Linked DNA regions of Homo sapiens. The protein of the gene in region 1 purifies or fractionates together with the protein of each later gene. This does not show direct contact. Each region holds a gene or a part of one and is shown in the gene's direction. Other genes may lie near its edges.

Evidence for each region.
Region 2: the proteins of LARP1B (region 1) and MSLN purify together in Homo sapiens (affinity purification with mass spectrometry; one large-scale study listed by BioGRID and IntAct). This does not show direct contact.

The regions. Positions count from the first base shown.
Region 1 is NC_000004.12:128,176,312-128,179,811, forward strand, and holds part of LARP1B (la-related protein 1B), read left to right. Parts: intron 1-560; coding exon 561-596; coding exon of another isoform or gene 597-608; intron 609-899; coding exon of another isoform or gene 900-955; intron 956-2,119; coding exon 2,120-2,331; intron 2,332-3,094; coding exon 3,095-3,201; intron 3,202-3,500.
Region 2 is NC_000016.10:763,734-766,547, forward strand, and holds part of MSLN (mesothelin isoform 1 preproprotein), read left to right. Parts: intron 1-289; coding exon 290-410; intron 411-913; coding exon 914-993; intron 994-1,173; coding exon 1,174-1,303; intron 1,304-1,376; coding exon 1,377-1,570; intron 1,571-1,793; coding exon 1,794-1,884; intron 1,885-1,957; coding exon 1,958-2,057; intron 2,058-2,325; coding exon 2,326-2,504; intron 2,505-2,601; coding exon 2,602-2,757; intron 2,758-2,814. UniProt on the Homo sapiens protein: Membrane-anchored forms may play a role in cellular adhesion. Megakaryocyte-potentiating factor (MPF) potentiates megakaryocyte colony formation in vitro.

The DNA.
Region 1 (3,500 bases):
AGATGAAGTCTTGCTCTTGTTCCCCAGGCTGGAGTGCAATGGCATGATCTCGGCTCACTGCAGCCTCCACCTGCCGGGTTCAAGCAATTCTCCTGCCTCAGCCTCCCGAGTAGCTGGGATTACAGGCGCCTGCTACCACGCCTGGCTAATTTTTGCATTTTTAGTAGAGATGGGGTTTCACCACATTGGACAGGCTGGTCTCGAGCTGCTGACCTCATGTGATCTACCCGCCTCGGCCTCCCAAAGTGCTGGGATTACAGGCGTGAGCCACTGCACCTGGCCAGATTGTATATATTTTTGGCATAAGGAAAACAGTATTAACACAATTCAATTAAGTTTAGCATTCCTTTGATGAGGATACATTTTTTCCCAAACATTATGTATGGTAGGCACTAGTATTCGATGCAGTTGTGGTAGTTGCTTTCTGGGAAGCAATGAGACTTACTCTTGGCATCTATGGGATGATATGTAAGAAAATAAATTTTAATTTAATAAATGAAACAATAAATGGATAAAATGCAGACACAGCACAAAAAGGGACTAATTAACTCTCTTGGCAGGAGGTGTTCAAGGAGTGCTTCACATTCCCAAGAAAGGTAACATCTGTGGTGGGTATTAAAGGGAGGCTATGATATCCTTTGCATTGGGTATACAAAAGATGCAGGAAAGGGACTTTCAGACAGAAGAAAAAGCATATGAAAAGATATGGAACAAGGAACAGGACTGACAGTTTGGTGCTATTTGTGTCACCAAGAACAAAGTGGAAAATGACAACAGATGAGGCAAAATCAGCAAAATCTCATATGCCAGGGTAAAGAGCCTAGGCTTATTCTAGAGGCAAATGGGAAACACTGAAGGATGTTAAGCAGAAATATGAAATGATCTAATTTGCTCCTCAGAATAATCATTCTGGTAACAGTGAAGAAAATGGATTGGGAGAGGAAATGGCAAATGTGTAAGTTCACTTTTGACTTTACAAATTCGTGCCTAGAATAGTGCTTGGCAAATAGCGGGCACTTAGTATTTGTTGAGTGAAAAAACAAAAAGTTGTTATATGAATCAAAAAAAGTCGATAAGTCTGAAGAAAAACCACACAGAAATAGTGCCTATTTTTTTTTGTTGCTACTGCTTGATTCATCTGCTGGCTTGTTTGTTATCTTACCATAAGATTTTCATGAACAAATCAGTAAGTAAAATAACCGAATAAAAAAAACAGTCAAAGGATTTGAATAGCAGGCTTACAAAAGAGGAAGTCTGAAGGGTAACTAGAAATATGAAAACATGCTCAATTTCACTAGCAACAACTAGATCATTTAAATCCCATGAGATGGAAGAATATTTAAGAGTTTGCACAAAACCCAGTCTTCACCAGAATGTTGAATTGGAATTCTCACATGCTGCTGGTGAGAGTGTAAGTTGGTGAAATCATTATGGAAAGTGGTTTGGCTGTCAGTAGTCATTAAGTTAGAAGATGCTTATCTCTTTTGACTCAGCATTTCCACTCAGATATAAACCCTAGAGAAATGCTTGTACCTGTACAGAGACATGTTCAGCAATGTTGATCACAGCATTGTTGATTAAACAAAAAACTTTGAAATAACATAAATGTCTATCTGCAGGAGAATGGATAAATTGTGATATATTTGTACACCACATACTATTCAGCAATGAAAATGAACAAATTAGAGCTATGTAAATAAAACATGAAAAAAGTTTACAAAGTGATATATATATATATATATATATATAGCATTATGTTACATAAAGTTAATTATGCAAAATAATATTACATATATGTAATAAAAGATCAAAATTCCAATTTAAGAGGCTAGTTATCTCTGAGAAGGGAAAGCAGGAGGGAAATGGGATTAGGGGAGGTTACACAGGAAGCTTCACCCTTTCTTTAAAAGAAAAAAAGGTCATAAACAGATATAGAAAAATAAAAATTTTATAAAGCTAGATAATGGTCAAAAAAGTATTTGTTATTTTTGTTTTTATATATTTGAAATGTTTTCAGTGAAAAATCCTTTGAGCTTAGAGAATTACAAAATTATCCTTATTCTCAAAGTAAAATATTTTCCTAGCATCTAAATAATTTTAAGAGTTTTTTATTTTGCAGATTTGACTGATGAATTAGCTCAGAAGTTATTTGATGTTTCAGAAATAACTTCAGCAGCAATGGTTCATTCGTTGCCTACAGCAGTTCCAGAATCTCCTAGAATTCATCCTACAAGAACACCCAAAACACCTCGAACACCTAGGTTACAAGATCCTAACAAAACACCAAGATTTTATCCTGTTGTTAAAGAACCAAAAGCCATTGATGTAAAGGTATACAAAACAACCAGGAATATAAGGCTTGCATTTTGTATCCTTTAACATTACAGAATGAAACGTTTTAGTTTCTATCACATTGAAAAATGTGTGTTATAACTTGTAATATTTCACTTAAAAATCATACTTTACCATAGTGATATTTTCTCTGGTTAGGAAATTTTTCGGTTGGGCACGGTGGTTTATGCCTGTAATCCAACACTTTGGGAGACCGAGGCAGGTGGATCGCTTGTGCCCAGGAGTTGGAGACGAGCCTGGGCAATGCAGTGGGACCCCATCTCTAAAAAAATACAAAAATTAGATGGGCGTGGTGGCGTGTGCCTGTAGTCCCAGCTACTTGGGAGGCTGAGGTGGCAGGATTGCTTGAGCCTGTAGGGGTCAGGGCTGCAGTGAGCCATGATCATGCCACTGCACTCCAGCCTTGGCAACAGAGTAAGACCCCATTTAAAAATAAACAAACAAACAAAAACCTTTTTTACAATTGGATAGTGTAATTAAAGACGAACAGAAAGTATAATGAAGAATCACACTAAGCTGCACTTCATTTCATCTTTGTGTCACAAACCTACCAAAGGACTTTATTTATTAAGTTTTGTAACTTGTGTGTGAGATTTTTGAGTTTTGTGACTTCATATGATTTCACAATGTGTTATCTACAGTATGAAAATGTTTGAGTTCATTTATAGTCAGAGGGTTTTAATTTACTTGTGAAGTTCACACTATTGAAACTAATTGCAATGCTTGACTTTATTTTCTTTAGAGTCCAAGAAAGAGAAAAACAAGGCATAGCACAAATCCCCCTCTAGAGTGTCATGTTGGTTGGGTAATGGATTCCAGAGACCGTGGGCCAGGAACATCCTCTGTCAGGTACTATATTTCTCAAACATTACTTTTTTGTTCGTGATTTGAAGTTTTTTGAAAACAGTTACTAATTGGATATTTCAAAATATTTAAAAATTAATATGTTAGCAAATTATAGAGCAATGAAAATGGTACAAAGAAGCCAAAGAAGAGATAAGTTTTACAAGTATGTTAAGGAAATAATCCAGTTGGACAGTTTTTTTTTCCCATTTAAATTATTTTTCACAAATGTGAACTCTTAGATTTATAAGCTATGTAGGTCTATGAAAGTTATTATCTTTGGAAAGTTCCCAGAGTCTTAGTGG
Region 2 (2,814 bases), on another chromosome or scaffold:
GGGCCCTCGGGACTGAGGGTGGGCAGGGCACCCCATCCCCCAGCATCCCCTCCCCCTTCCTCCTCTGCTCCACCTCAGATCTGACTGGGCTCAGGACTGCGGGAGGGACTGACACCCCTCAGGTGATGGCAACTCCCGGCCCTTGAGGGCGTCACCTGGTCTTGGGGGGAGGTCTGCAGGGAGCACCAGGGTCCTTTGGGGAGAGGTGGGGCTGTGGGGCTTGGGGAGCACTGGGTGGACATTGCAGGGGAGGGGCGATCGTGGGTGCCCAGCCCGACCCTTCCTGCAGCCTCTCCCCTCGCCAACTCCTTGGCTTCCCGTGTGCGGAGGTGTCCGGCCTGAGCACGGAGCGTGTCCGGGAGCTGGCTGTGGCCTTGGCACAGAAGAATGTCAAGCTCTCAACAGAGCAGGTCAGTCTCAGTTGGGCTGAGGCAGGTGGGCACAGCTGGGGCTGAGGAATTCACAGGCAGCTCTGCAGTGCCCACCTTGCCACCACGGTCCCCTCTGTCCCTGCTGCCATCTCTCCCCGGCCAGTTCTTCCCAGAGTTCCTCTGGCCACCCAAGCTGACCACTGGGGTGCCTGTCCACGTCAGGGGCTGGCTCCCCAGGAGCAAGTCTGATATGACGCTGTGTGCTGGGCCCCCTCCTGGAGCGCCGTGGGCAGCCCTCCAGGCTCTGCCCCAAGGGTGAATCTTTTTCGGGGGAGTGGGTGAGATCTGGGGAAGGGGAGCGGAGCCAGGCACGGGAGCCCCCATCCCCCAGGGCAGCGCTGCAGGCGGCCAGAGATCCACTTCCACAGATTCTCGTGGCCAGGGCAGGGGTGTGTTGTGGTGGGCAGACTGGCCAGGCGACCCTGGCCCACCATGTGAGTGGCGGCTCGAAACGCTCTGTGCTGGACTCCCTGCCCCTGCAGCTGCGCTGTCTGGCTCACCGGCTCTCTGAGCCCCCCGAGGACCTGGACGCCCTCCCATTGGACCTGCTGCTATTCCTCAAGTAGGCCCTGCCCCCTGAACCCACCCCCCCGGCTTTTGCCGCCAGCCCTCAGCCCCCAACCCCCTGCCCCTTGCCTCGGATCCCAGGCCACAGCAGAGATGTGGAGGCCGGCCGGGCTGCCTCTCAGGGTGGGGACGGGTGTGATCAGTGCGGCCTGTCCCCAGCACCCTCTCTTCACAGCCCAGATGCGTTCTCGGGGCCCCAGGCCTGCACCCGTTTCTTCTCCCGCATCACGAAGGCCAATGTGGACCTGCTCCCGAGGGGGGCTCCCGAGCGACAGCGGCTGCTGCCTGCGGCTCTGGCCTGCTGGGTAGGGGCTGGGGCCAGCGCGGGGCGGAGAGGGCTCGGCAGTTCCAAAAGCGCTGAGGCCAGCCTCTCTGCAGGGTGTGCGGGGGTCTCTGCTGAGCGAGGCTGATGTGCGGGCTCTGGGAGGCCTGGCTTGCGACCTGCCTGGGCGCTTTGTGGCCGAGTCGGCCGAAGTGCTGCTACCCCGGCTGGTGAGCTGCCCGGGACCCCTGGACCAGGACCAGCAGGAGGCAGCCAGGGCGGCTCTGCAGGGCGGGGGACCCCCCTACGGGTAAGTGAAGGTGTCTGGAACCTCGAAGGCTCACCTGGCGGCGTGGTATCAGCAGCGTGAGGACACTTGCGGCCATGCCTCAAGGCCCAGGGTCAGTCACCCCCGCCACCACCCCTGCCAATGCCCCCAGCGTCCCCTCCACAGCCAGGGGGTACGGCCTGGCCTCTTCCCTCTCTGGGGCTGCACGTGGGGGGTCCCTGAGCTGTGTCCCGTGTCTGCACAGCCCCCCGTCGACATGGTCTGTCTCCACGATGGACGCTCTGCGGGGCCTGCTGCCCGTGCTGGGCCAGCCCATCATCCGCAGCATCCCGCAGGTGAGACCCCAATCCCCAGCCCGTGGGGATGCCCGGCCACCCGAGGCTCAGCCCAGGTCCTGCTCGTCCTCAGGGCATCGTGGCCGCGTGGCGGCAACGCTCCTCTCGGGACCCATCCTGGCGGCAGCCTGAACGGACCATCCTCCGGCCGCGGTTCCGGCGGGAAGTGGAGAGTGAGTGCCGTGCCCTGCGCAGTCTGGCACCAGGCTGGGCAGCACCCCTGGGGGTGGGCATCACTTTAGGGTCTCACCTGCCCCTCCCTGGCTCTGCAGCACATCCCATTATAATCACAGAGAGTGGACAGAATCCCTGTTTGCCAGTGGGTAAACTGAGGCACAGGGAGGGTCACAAATGGCCCGAGGTCTCATCTCACAGGAGGTGTGGGAGGAAGAAGGGGTCAAACGAACTCCGGCCCTGACCCCTGACCCCTGTGCCCTGCAGAGACAGCCTGTCCTTCAGGCAAGAAGGCCCGCGAGATAGACGAGAGCCTCATCTTCTACAAGAAGTGGGAGCTGGAAGCCTGCGTGGATGCGGCCCTGCTGGCCACCCAGATGGACCGCGTGAACGCCATCCCCTTCACCTACGAGCAGCTGGACGTCCTAAAGCATAAACTGGATGAGGTAGTTCATGACTCAAGTTCCCACCGGCCTGCTGTGTCCAAGCCATCCCCAGCCCCTCTGGGAGTGACATGGGCCCTCCTGGTCTCTTGGCCTGCAGCTCTACCCACAAGGTTACCCCGAGTCTGTGATCCAGCACCTGGGCTACCTCTTCCTCAAGATGAGCCCTGAGGACATTCGCAAGTGGAATGTGACGTCCCTGGAGACCCTGAAGGCTTTGCTTGAAGTCAACAAAGGGCACGAAATGAGTCCTCAGGTGACCGTCCGGCTCGGGGGTCATGTGGCATGAGATTGGGAAGGGCTGAGGGGCAGA